Linked DNA regions of Homo sapiens: region 2 is linked to region 1. Evidence: fine-mapped expression QTL. Tissue or cell type: whole blood. Region 1 holds a variant in brackets; the other region holds the start of a gene. All regions are shown on one strand. Distances are between the middles of the regions.

Region 1 (6,426 bases):
TGGCAACAGGCTCTGAGCAGAAGGAACCGAGATGGTGGAGCCGCAGAGCAAAGCAGGCAGGATCAGGAAGCCACCACCTGGAGGACCACTGCCCTAGAAGAGGACAGATGCAGGGCCAGCTTCGTGGAGCGGGGGCCACGGTTCACTGTGTGAAGTCGCTGATATCTGGGGCTTGCTACCGAAGCACAGCCCAGCCTGGCTGATGCAAACACACTGACATTTTCCTGTCTGTCCCTGCTTTGTCCTTATTTTTTTCTCTTGTTTTAAAAAAATGCTTTAATTACTTTATTCGACAAAGCAGACATTTTCCCTTTAGGATTATTTCTTAAACATATCATTTTAAAACAAAAAGTGGCATTTATTTGACATTTTATTTATAAAATACTTTTCTGTATAAATTACTGCGTAACACAATCCTGTTTGTTACCTAACGGCATAAACTGACACTGAATAGTTCTTCATTAAATGCTGTGACCTGATAAATTAAATTACAAATTTCATTAGTTTGCTAAACATTCCAATGCCTGACATAATGCATATTTATGTGTACTGGGAAATGAAATGTTACAAGCATCTTAAATATCTGCTAAGTGATGCAAATTTTCTTCCAAAAACTAGGATTATAATAAATCACTACAAAATTCCATATTCAACTGCTACAACTTGGTTCAGCAGCCAACCATTTAATTTAAGAATTCCTTTAATTTAATCCTATAGCAGTAATTGCTCTGGTAATTTGTATAGGGGTAGAAAGAAGAGGGAAGCTGTATTTAAAAAAAAAAAATTGAGGCTGGGCGCAGTGGCTCACACCTGTAATCCCAGCACTTTGGGAGGCTGAGGCGGGTGGATCACAAGATCAGGAGATCGAGACCATCCTGGCTAACACGGTGAAGCCCCATCTCTACTAAAAATACAAAAAAATTAGCTGGGCATGGCAGTGGGTGCCTGTAGTCCCAGCTACTCAGGAGGCTGAGGCAGGAGGATGGCGTGAAGCTGGGAGGTGGAGCTTGCAGTGAGCGGAGATCGTGCCACTGCACTCCAGCCTGGGCGACAGAGCGAGACTCCGTCTCAAAAAAAAAAAAAAATTAAAGGTAGAAATCATGTTCATTATTTGATACTTCGCTAAAGTCATCCTCATCCTTGAAATTAAAATTTAATTTTTTTTTTTTGAGACAGAGTCTTGCTCTGTCACCCAGGCTGGAGTGTAGTGGCGTGATCTCGGCTCACTACAACCTCTGCCTCCCAGGTTCAAGGGATTCTTGTGCCTCAGGCTCCCAAGTAGCTGGGATTACAGACATGTGCCACCACACCTGGCTAATTTTTGTATTGTTAGTAGAGACGGGGCTTCACCATGTTGGCCAGGCTAGTCTCAAACTCCCGACCTTAGGTGATCTGCCTGCCTTGGCCTCCCAACGTGCTGAGATTACAGGCATGAGCCACTGTACCTGGCCTTGTTTTTTAATTAATTGATTATTATTAGTAGTATTTTTTGAGACAGAGTCTCATTCTGTCGCCCAGGCTGGAGTGCAGTGGCACCATCTTGGCTCAGCAGTGGCATAATCTTGGCTCACTGGAGCCTCTGCCTCTCGGGTTCAAGCGATTCTTGTGCCTCAGCCTCCTGAGTAGCTGAGACTACAGCGCCCACCACCACACCCAGCTAATTTTTGTATTTTAAGTAGAGACAGGGTTTTGCTATGTTGGTCAGGCTGGTCTCAAACTCCTGGCCTTAAGTGATCCTCCTGCCTCAACCTCCCAAAGTGCTAGGATTACAAGCGTGAGCCACCACACCCAGTCTGAAATTAAAATTTCTGCTTGCCTTTTAGAGAAGACTGATGATGGTCCTGACCTAACAATGAGTTAGTGCTGCCCAAGGTCAACACTGTCCCCGAGGGAGCAGAGGTCATGCTGTCCAAGGCTGCTTGCTACTCATACAACCAGGAAGACACTTGTAAAGAAAACACCAGGGCTGAAGGGAGAACACATGTAAATGTATCTCTAACAAGATTTTTTGGTTTGCTTTTTTGAGACGGAGTCTCGCTCTGTTCCCAGGCTGGAGTACAATGGCATGATCTTTGTAACCTCCACCTCCCGGGTTCAAGCGATTCCCTTGCCTCAGCCTCCAGAGTAACTGGGACTACAGGCAAGCCACCATGCCCAGCTAATTTTTGTATTTTTAGTAGAGACGGGGTTTCACCATGTTGGCCAGGATAGTCTTGATCTCGTGATCTACGCACCTTGGCCTCTCAAAGTGCTGGGATTACAGGTGTGAGCCACCATGCCTGGCCGACAAGTTTTTATAACCTAACATCTTCTGCCTCATGCCCTGGGAAGGCTGATGGCAACTTAGAGCAAGAGATGAGAATTTTCCTGGGAGGGTGGGAGTCACATCATCCACCAGGCTACTGTGTGTGATGACATCCTGTACTTGCATGGAAGGCAGTTTTATCTTTGACTACCAGTAACATGGCCAAATATAGGATCAAAACTCACATCCCAGAGTTACTCAGAAATGGAGCTGCAAACAGTACTGACTTTCCCTGACATTTTAAATCCTGCTGGTGCAGCTGCATGCAGTTGTAATCCCCGCACTTTGGGAGGCTGATGTGGGAGCATCACTGGAGCCCAGGAGTTTGAGACCAGCCTAGGCAACATAGTGAGACCCCATCCCAAATTAAAACAAAAATCCTGTTGGGTACGTACTGTCACCAAGCAATTGGTCTCTGCCTGTAAAGTCCCTACACACTCCGTGTGTAAACTTTCAACAAAAATAATGTGAGTCAAACTAAAATTACATATATATATATATATATAT[ATATG/G]TGTGTATTTTTTTTTTTTTTAAGAAACAGGAGCTTGCTCTGTTGCCTAGATTAGGCTCAGCTTCCCAGGCTCAAGCAATCCTCCTGCCTCAGCCTCCCAAGTAGCTAGGACAACAGGTGTGCGCCACCGTGCTTGGCTCTGAAATGACAGGTAGAAGCACAGTGCTATGATGGGGACAGTCAATGAAGAATGTCTGGTGGGGAGGTGCGATCTCAACTGAGTCCTGAAGGAAGAAGAGTTGAAGGAAAGCAGCCCACGGAAGGAATGCTAGGCCCCAGGAAGAGAAGCAAATGGGTGGCATGAACATGCACCACACATTAGGGAAGGGCAGGAGTTCAAGACCAGCCTGGCCAACATGGTGAAACCCCATCTCTACCCAAAATATGAAAGTTAGCCAGGGCCCCAACACAAAGGCCAGGAGTGGCTGGAGTCCCCAACGCACGAGGCCTCGGAACAGCAGGCCGGGTCTGGCTGCGAGACCCTGGGTGCCACACCAAAGACTGGAGCTGTATTCTAGTGGCAGCGTGGAGCCATGTAACGTGGAGGGCAACACCATCTGAGCTGGGTTTGAGGAAGACAGCTCTGGTAGCCGTGGTGGGAGGTGGGCACACCTGGTGCCAGGAGGCAGCTACTGCAGTACAGCAACTTGGTGACGAGGGGGCTCCACCCTGACAGTGGTGGGAGGGAAGCAGAGGTCCAGAAGCAGGGAGATCCTCGGGTAGATGGCCAGGACACTGCTGAGCGACTGGCCAAAAGAGCACTCTGGTCTTTCCAGCAGAATTTACTGGGAGCAGCAGGGCTCAGTGGCTCACACCTATAATCCCAGCACTTTGGGAGGCTGAGGCGGGTGGATCACCTGAGGTCAGGAGTTAGAGACCAGCCTGGCCAACACAGTGAAACACCGTCTCTACTAAACATACAAAAATTAGCTGGGCGGGGTGGCACAGGCCTGTAATCCCAGCTACTTGGGAGACTGAGGCAGGAGAATCGCTTGAACCTAGGAGACGGAGGTTGCAGTGAGTCAAAAATCAGACCATTGCACTCCAGCCTGGGCAACATGGTGAGACACTATCTCAAAAAAAAAAAAAAAAAAAAAGGGAATTTAGTGGGAGCAGAGGAGCGAAGTTAGGAAGAAGAGCACAATTGGGGGAGGCTAAATTTGATATTGAACAACATCCTCAAATGCAGTCACTGTGTTTCCATTCATTGCTGTGTGCACCCCCTACTGTTGACTTTAACAAATATTTTTAGAGATGGGGTCTTGCTATGTTGGCCAGGTTGGTTTTAAATTCCTGGCCTCAAGCAGTCCTCCCAAAGTGCTAGGATTACAGGTGTAAGCCACTGCACCCGGCCCACTGCTGACTTGTAAAAAATAAATGAAGCACCCCAATTAATTCCAGATAAGTAACACAGGCAGCAGCCATGTCAGCTTGATGACTCTCCTTTACAGTCAATAATCCCCATTCAATGCATGCCACCTGATGACAGCCGCCATGCACAGTCATACACGGGCTCCTGGGCAGACAGCACACCTGCATTCAAAATTTTCACTTAAATAAGTAATTATTAAAAGGTCTCTTGGGTCAGGCGCAGTGGCTCACACCTGTAATCCCAGCACTTTGGGAGGCCAAGACGGGTGCATCAGTTGAGGTCAGGAGCTCGAGACCAGCTTGGCCAACATGGTGAAACCCCGTCTCTACTAAAAACACAAACATTAGCCGGGCATGGCTGTGGATGCCTGTCATCCCAGCTACTCGGGAGGCTGAGGCAGGAGAATCACTTGAACCCAGGAGGCGGAGGTCGCAGTCAGCCAAGATTGTGTCACTGCACTCCAGCCTAGGCAACAGAGTAAGACTCTGTCTCAAACAAACAAAAAGAGAAGTCTCTTGACCTACCTGCTTTTCCTGCAGGACACAGACCATACCTGGAGAGAGCCTAATAACTGAACACCTGGTGCCCCTGGCCTGATGCTCACTGCCCCTACCCTGGCATAGTGAAGGCTGGGGAGGTGGCTGTTCTTTCTAGGGGAGAAACTCAGCTTCAGTGAGATTGAGTCTCAACTTAAGAGTGACAGGGAGGCTGGGTGCGGTAGCTCACACCTGTAATCCCAGCACTTTGGGAGGCTGAGGCGAGCAGATCACGAGGTCAGGAGATCAAGACCATCCTGGCTAACACGGTGAAACCCCATCTCTACTAAAAATACAAAAAATTAGCCAGGCGTGGTGTTGGGAGCCTGTAGTCCCAGCTACTCGGGAGGCTGAGGCAGGAGAATGACGTGAACCCAGGAGGCAGAGCTTGCAGGGAGCCGAGATTGCGCCACTGCACTCCAGCCTGGGCAACAGAGCGAGACTCTGTCTCAAAAAAAAAAAAAAAAAGAGCGAGAGGGAAACAGGAACAAGTCCACCCTGAGTCCAAGATGGCCTCGAGCCCTCCAGTGTTCAGCAGATACTCGTTGAGGGGATAGGTGCGTGTGCAGAGGAACAGCCTGGGAGTCCCGGTTGCCTGTTCACCTCCCTTGCCCCAACACAAAGCTGCCAACCCTGGACTTGCTGCATTCTCTCAGGATGTGTAGGAAACAGGAAAGGAGTCTTAATCTGACATTTCAAGATCAACCAGATAACTCAAATAAACAAAATCTAAAGTTCAGGGCAGGATAAGGACTAAGCGAGGTGGTGCTTTAACAAGAGATGCTGGATTTGTCCTCCCTGTGGCACAAACTGGGGCAACACAAGCAAAAGCCCCACCACCAGCAGCTAACAAAGACTAGAGAGCACCCCCAAGCAAGACGTGTCACAGCCTTAGGATGACCACACCGCCCGGAGATGGCCAACATTTAGACGGGATGCCCCGTGCATCCTCCAGGGGGTTGGGCTTGGGGGTTGCTGCTCCCATTAGAAAGGAGAGGAAACCAAGGCCGGGCATGGTGGCTCACACTTGTAATCCCAGCACGTTGGGAGGACAAGGCAGGTGGATCATTTGAGGTCAGGAGTTCAAGACTAGCCTGGCCAACATGATAAAACCCCATCTCTACCCAAAATACAAAAGTTAGCAGGGACTGTACGTGGTGGCTCACGCCTGTAATCCCAGCACTTTGGGAGGCGGAGGCAGGCGGACCACCTGAGGTCAGGAGTTCAGGACCAGACTGGCCAACATGGTGAAACCCTGTCTCTACTAAAAATACAAAAAATTAGCCAGGTGTGGTGGTGGGTGCCTGTAATCTCAGCTACTCGGGAGGTTGAGACAGGGAGAATTGCTTGAACCTGGGAGGCAGAGGCTGCAGTGAGCCGAGATCGTGCCACTGCACTCCAGCCTGGGCGACAGAGCGAAACTCCGTCTCAAAAAACAAAAAAATTAGGTGGGCATGGTGGCACATGTCTGTGGTCCCAGCTACTTGGGAGGCTGAGGTGCGAGGATTGCTTAAGCCTGGGAAGGCAGAGGTTGCAGTGAGCCAAGATCGTGCCACTGCACTCTAGCCTGGATGACAGAGTGAGACCCCACCTGGAAAAAAAAGAAAGGAGAGGAAATTGCGGTTCAAGGTGACAGCAGCTTGCCCAGAGTCCAGAGCCCGCCTGGGGCCCAGCTCTGTCCTGCCTCTGCCATGAGTCCCCA
Region 2 (6,426 bases), 52 kb before region 1:
CATCTTCCAGGTGCTCAGCTTTCCCCTAATACCCGGGAGGCCTCCTAGATTCTCCTCTTCTGCTCACACCCTCACCTATAGGTCAGGGGCCTGGCAGGAGGCGGCACTTCTCTCCAGGGACCCCTGGTGCCCTCCGCCTGCTCCAGCACAGTTGGCTTCAGTGGCTGCGGCCTCTCCGTCTCCCTGCAGTGCATACTCAACTAGAGTTGTCGAGAAAACCTAAGCCGGCCATACCACCCCTCCGAGGGCCCTTCCCACTCCCCAGCGTCCTCACACACTTTCCGGGGCCTCTGTGCTTGCAGCCCCAGCCTCCCCCTACTGCCTGTGGCTCCCTGCCTGGGCACACACAGACCCCTGCCCTGGTGGGACAAGCCCTCCCAGAGGAAGAGGAGTGTGCCTGGGTCAGGTCCCAGCAGGAGCATGATGGGGTCAAAGGTCAACTCCTATCCCAAGATGGCAAGACCCCCCTCCGCCCTCCACCTGGGGCTTCCTAGGTGTTTGGAAGTCATGCTCTGCCCATTCCCCTGCCCCAGCCACCCTCCCCGCAGCCCATCCTCCCTCCCTGAGGAACCTGCCCCTTCACAGCTGTTCACACGTCCCTGGGCAGCCTCTAGTGCAGCAGCGATGCCATGAAACCACCGTGGAGGGCACCATCAGCCTTGGCACTGCTGCCTTAGGAGGTGCAGCATGTCCACACTCATGCCCACAGGGGACAGCTTTCATCAGAAGACACTGCAGCAGAGATGGCGGCTGCAACCCAAAGCAGGGGGTTCCCCTGGGGCTGGATCTAAAAGTGACCTCAGGAGAAAAAGGCAAGAGGCTGAGGTGAGGCAGTGCTGTGGAGCCCCATGGCAGGGAGTGTTACTATGTCTGCTGCCACTTGCACTTACAGTGGGAAAGACGCACGCGGACTCACACTGAGGCTGGCTGGGGAGGGAGGGGACAGGCACGCAGGGCTTCCGATCTGCCGTGTGTTGCTCCTTCAACTGGGTCCCGGGCTCCCAGGCATCATGATGCTCTTTGTATGTGTGTCTAAAATAATTCACTAGTGAAACCACTTCCCAACCCCTCCACTTGGGCCTCAGGGGAAAATCCAGGATCCTTGCCGGGCATTCCAGGCCCCATGGGACCTGGCCAGTCAGGTGGCCTCTGCAGCCTTTGTGTCACACTCCAGACCTTGGCCCCTGCTTTGCCCTCTGCCAGAAATGCCTCTTTCTGCCCATCTGGACTTTGTGGCTATGTCCATGTCCACAGGAAGCTTCTAGGCAGCAGAGAAACAGGGTCAGACTTGGCTTTTAGAAAAAGGTCTCTGGGGCAGGCAGATCACTTGAGGCCAAGAGTTCGAGACCAGCCTGGCCAACATGGCAAAACCCCGTCTCTACTAAAAATACAAAAACTAGCTGTGAGTGCTGGTGCATGCCTGTAATTGCAGCTACTTGGGAGGCTGCAGCATGACAATTGCTTGAACCTGGGAAGTGGAGGTTGCAGGGAGCTGAGATTGCACCACTGCACTCCAGTCTGGGTGACAGAATGAGACTTTGTCTTGGGAAAAAAAAAAACCCTCTGGGATCCCCAGTGAGGAGGGCAGGTCAGGGCACGGGGGCAGGGAAGACATCAAGGGGTGGAGAGAGACCCGCCCTGAGGCCCAGTGCACAGCCTGGCATCCACTGGTGCCCTTTCACCCTCATTCCACCAGTAGCCATGGAGACGGCTGTATCTCAACTCCAGCCTTCGAAGAGGGCAAGAGAGCAGGGGAGCCTTGAGCCACAGACAGCCCACATGGGCACCATCTCCCCAAGATGTCCCCCAGGGTTTGGGCTCCCAAAGGCCGATTGTTGACTCCAGGACCTTCACTCACTTTGCTCTCCCCACCATCGTACTCAGAGGCATCCAGAACCGGCAGATGGGAGAAGCCCTAGGGAGATAGGCCTAGATACAGGAGGAGACATGTGGAGCTGAGGCAAAGGCGGGTGCGGATGCCAGGCCCAGTGCCCTCTATACCCCTACTCCTGCTGACAACCTGGCTGCTGTAAGCTTGGCAGTTGCCATGGACTCCCTGGGAGAGATGGCGTGGCCTGGAACGTCCCCCGCCCTGAGGTGGGGCAGGGCTGGTGGGGTCTGGTCATCCCCCTGGTGGGTCCATGCATGGCAGCCTGGGCAGGATACATGTGAGTGCCTACCTGGGCTGGGGTGGCCTGACCCTCTCTGGGCCTCACAGCTTTGTCTGCCTCATGGTACTGTCCACCTGGCCTCTCAGGACTGCTCTGTGGCGTGTGTGCTTAAGGGATTGAGCTCGTTGGGCTGGGGACAGAGGCCTGCCTAGGTCTGTTGAGAGGGCCCAGGTAAGACTTCCACCCAGACTGACTGGCTGGGGCACACAGAGAAGCCAGGACAGGGCTGATTGTGTGTGCAGGGGCGTGCCCTCTGGACGAGGCCCCTCCCACCGGGGCGAGGCAGAGGCCTTGCTTGGTTGGAGCGGAGTGGGGGAGTGGGAGGGTCTCCCTGGTGAGATAGTACTGGAAGGGCAGGGACAGCATTCTAGGGAAGGAACCAGAAAGAGCCCCTGCATGGAATGTGGGGATTTCACCATGAGACCCCGGCTGCCTGGCCTCTGAGAACGTGTGTGGGGGGATTCCAGGTGGAAGGTCGTGTCTGGGAGGATGGGTGGGGGGTTGAGCAGTCATTGCCCCTCTCCAGATCTGCGTCCACATCTGTAAAATGGGCCTAGAATTCCCAGCCGCTGGGGGCGAGTGAGGCCATAAATTAGTTGAGATGGACCCAGGCTCCTAAGCCCCCTAGGTCATGACCCCAAACCTTGGAACCCCCGACGGAGACGGTGGGGGTGGCCGAGGCCCAATCGAATCTATCCCGCCCAGATGTGGGAAGAACCGCAGGGCAAACCCCCGGCTTCCCTCCTGGCCGCTCCTCTCTTTGAGGCCACCTCTCTGAGCCCTGATTTGCTGGCGGGTGAACTGGGGATCATCGTGTCCACTGTGGCTGGTGGTCGTGAAACGAAGTGGAAACATGAGTGTTGAGGCCGAGATGGGCGCAGTGCGCGCTCCTAAACAGCTGTCCCCATCCGTCCGCCCCTCCCTCCCTTGCGCGGGTCAGCTGGAGCGGGGGCGCGCCAGGCACGACCCTGGCCGGGCAGAAGGCGGTGGAGCCCTTAGGGGTCGCGGCTCCTACCCCCGGCCCTCCCATGTGCAGATGGGGTAGCAGCCTGGAGGTTTTTCCCAAGGTCACGTAAGGTCAAAGAAAAGGGGAGCTGGACGCGACGAGGAAAGTCACGCACGGCGGAGGGCGGGCCACCTACGCGCGCGCCCGAGTTCGCAGAGCAGCGGCGCCCTCCCGGGCTAGGGCAGCTCGGAGCTCGGAGCCTTTCTTCGCCCGCAGCTCGGGTTCCGGGAGCCCCGCCCCCGCCCATCAACGCCCCGCCCCTTTCGCCACGGCCCCGCCCCTCCTCTCCGTTCTCCCCGCCGGCGCTCCCTCAAGTTTCTCCGAAGTTTTCCGCGGGTCCAGCGGTGCGCCCCGCCCGCCGGCCAGTGACGTAACAATGGTGCAGCGCGGCGGCCAATGGGTGGTGGCGGGGGCCGGCGGCGCGGGCCAATGGCGGCGGCGGACGGTCCCGCTGTCCTGCCTGGCCGGGGCCGCACTGCGCCGCCCGCCGCCCGCCGCCCGCCGCCCGCCGCCGGCGACGGCACCGCCGCCCTGCGATCCGGCCGCGGCGGCTCAGAGCGCGGCTGCGGCGGGCGCGGGCGGCGGTGGCTCCCTCCCGTGCGTCCGTCGTGGGACCTTTGCCCGCTCGCCCGCGGGGGACAGCGCGCGCTCCGGTCCGCGGCAGGGGCGGGGACGCCCGGCCTGTGGCCCCCGCGCCCCCCATGGTGAGTCCCCGTCCCCCGCGCCGCGCCCGCGGCCGCCGCCCCCTCCTCCTCCGGCACACGCGCACGCAGGTGCAGCCCTCGCTGCGCCGGCCACCTGCGCGCGGACGCCCCGCTCGGCCCCGCGACCCTCCGCCGCCCGACGTCTGGCCGTGCAGGCCGGGAGGGGACGGGTAGGAGGTGGCGGGTGGCCCCGGGCGCGGCGCTGCCTTCGATGGCCCAACCCCCTTATTCACGAGCCGCGGCCGTGACTCTGCCCGGTGACGTGGGGAGGCCGAACTTTACGTAACCCGCCCGGCGCCCCACGCGTGCCGGCACAGGGCATATCTGGGGCCCGGAGGCCCAGGCTTGGGGAAGGGGCTCCAGTCACGGTGTTGCCCACGGGCCACAGCCTACCCGCACCGCGCCGCTCTCTTTAACTCAGTTACTGCCAGTGATAGTGACCCAGTCAGTGTGTGTGGACGCGGCCTGCCTTCTGTCCCAGGCCCCTTGTGACCAAGGGCTTACCCTTGAAAGAAGGCAGTAGGGAGGTTGGGACGGAGCCAGAGGTCAGACGCCTAGGCTCAGGTCGGGGCTGGGGACTCAGAGGGCAGGGTCAGGGCCTAAGCTCGATTGCCTGTGGGTTGGGGGTCCCCACCAATTCTGGAATGAGCCCAAACTGAGACGCAGGGGACCTGAGTTCTAGGCCTGGCTCTGCCGTGGCTTGCTGACCTTGGAGAATTGGAGAAGCTTGTGCCCTGCTGGAAAGTGGGATGGCAGTACCCGCTTCATCTAGTAGTCGGGGAGATCAAGAGAGGTATGGGACCTGAAGAGGATGGCAGACTGTGCAGTGCGGTGCACACCGGTCTCCAGGTTGTTTTCACCCTCCTATCTCCTCCCAGGAGCTAACGTGTAAGCAAACATGTTTGGATAGAGGGCTGGTGCCACGCCCCAGGCTCACCCCGCCCGCACAGCCGTCGTCCACCCCTCCCCTTTCTTACAGATAAAGCTGAGGCTCGGCCAGGGACTGTGATATACCCACATCCCCGGAACTAGGTGATCGCGGTGCAGGAACCAGGTAGGTCTGAGTCTGGATCATGCCTCTGAACAGCCCAGGAAGAGGCTCCAGGGGCCTCCAAGTGGTCTGGGGTCGGAGATCAGGGTCAGGGTTGCGCTTGGGCTGGAGAGTGGATTTGCCTCAGCTTGAGATGTGGGCCCAAGCTTTCTCATCCCCTCCCTGGCCTTTTCTTTATTTGGGGTCGTATGAACCTGGCTTAGGTGGGAACAGAAGCTCTTCCAGTGGGTCCCTGGGTTGGAGAGGGGAGGGGAGATTTGAGGGCATGGGCAGCAAGGGCATTTCCAGCAGAGGTGCCAGAGAGCAAGTCAGTTTCAAGGAGGGAGAACAGGTACAGCTAGATCAAGGATGGAGGCGGTGGTTCTGGGCGTCGGAGAGATGGAGCTGTAGGGTGACTGGAAGGGCCTGGCCGAGGCTGGAGGTAGGTACAGGCCTGGTGGGCCAGGACCGGAGGGGCTGTGTGAGGGGCAGAGGGGAGTCCCCGGGCCTCCCCAGTTTCCCCGCGCCTCACCGTGGCCTCTTCCTTTCCCCGCAGGTGTGCCTTCGCGGGATCCATGCCTTGAGGCCCAGGAACGCCCCGCCGCCAGCATGCCGTGGGACGCGCGGCGGCCTGGGGGTGGCGCGGACGGCGGGCCCGAGGCCTCGGGCGCGGCGCGCTCGCGAGCGCAGAAGCAGTGCCGCAAGTCGTCGTTCGCCTTCTACCAGGCGGTGCGCGACCTGCTACCCGTGTGGCTGCTGGAGGATATGCGCGCCAGCGAGGCCTTCCACTGGGACGAGCGCGGGCGCGCCGCCGCCTACTCGCCCTCTGAGGCGCTGCTCTACGCGCTCGTGCACGACCACCAAGCGTACGCGCATTACCTGCTGGCCACGTTCCCGCGGCGCGCGCTCGCACCGCCCAGTGCCGGCTTCCGCTGCTGCGCGGCTCCCGGGCCGCACGTGGCGCTGGCAGTGCGCTACAACCGCGTGGGCATTCTGCGCCGCATCCTGCGCACCTTGCGCGACTTCCCGGCCGAGGAGCGGGCGCGCGTGCTGGACCGGCGTGGCTGCAGCCGCGTGGAGGGCGGTGGCACGTCGCTGCACGTGGCCTGTGAGCTGGCGCGCCCCGAGTGCCTCTTCCTGCTGCTGGGCCACGGCGCCTCGCCCGGTCTGCGGGACGGCGGCGGCCTCACGCCTCTCGAGCTGCTGCTGCGCCAGCTGGGCCGCGACGCCGGGGCCACTCCCTCCGCCGCCGGAGCCCCCGCCTCAGCTCCCGGGGAGCCGCGCCAGCGCCGCCTGCTGCTGCTGGACCTCCTGGCGCTGTACACCCCCGTGGGTGCCGCCGGCTCGGCCCGCCAGGAGCTGCTGGGCGACCGGCCGCGCTGGCAGCGGCTGCTGGGTGAGGACAAGTTCCAGTGGCTGGCGGGCCTGGCGCCGCCCTCGCTCTTCGCGCGCGCCATGCAGGTGCTGGTCACCGCCATCTCTCCAGGCCGCTTCCCCGAGGCCCTGGACGAGCTG

The links. PIP is the estimated chance that this variant, and not a neighbour inherited with it, causes the effect.
Region 2: it holds the start of ANKRD9, and the variant in region 1 is fine-mapped to the expression of ANKRD9 in whole blood (INTERVAL, PIP above 0.99).

What each region holds. Positions count from the first base shown.
Region 1 is chr14:102,455,357-102,461,782 of GRCh38, reverse strand. The region is part of intron 16 of TECPR2 (tectonin beta-propeller repeat containing 2); the gene reads right to left. Among named protein-coding and RNA genes, the nearest start is that of ANKRD9, 51 kb to the left of the region's middle. The variant ATATG/G (reference allele first, on the strand shown) is at 2,813.
Region 2 is chr14:102,506,984-102,513,409 of GRCh38, reverse strand. ANKRD9 (ankyrin repeat domain 9) reads left to right here and starts at 3,634. Exons shown (of 4, transcript NM_152326.4): 1 at 3,634-3,881; 2 at 4,564-4,769; 3 at 4,861-4,935; 4 at 5,468-6,426. The coding sequence starts at 5,521. LOC105370679 (a long non-coding RNA gene) reads right to left here and starts at 3,367. Exons shown (of 4, transcript XR_007064352.1): 1 at 1,859-3,367; 2 at 596-1,032; 3 at 76-179. RefSeq lists enhancers at 1,627-2,270, 2,271-2,916, 2,917-3,560 and silencers at 3,041-3,090, 3,251-3,690, 4,685-4,846.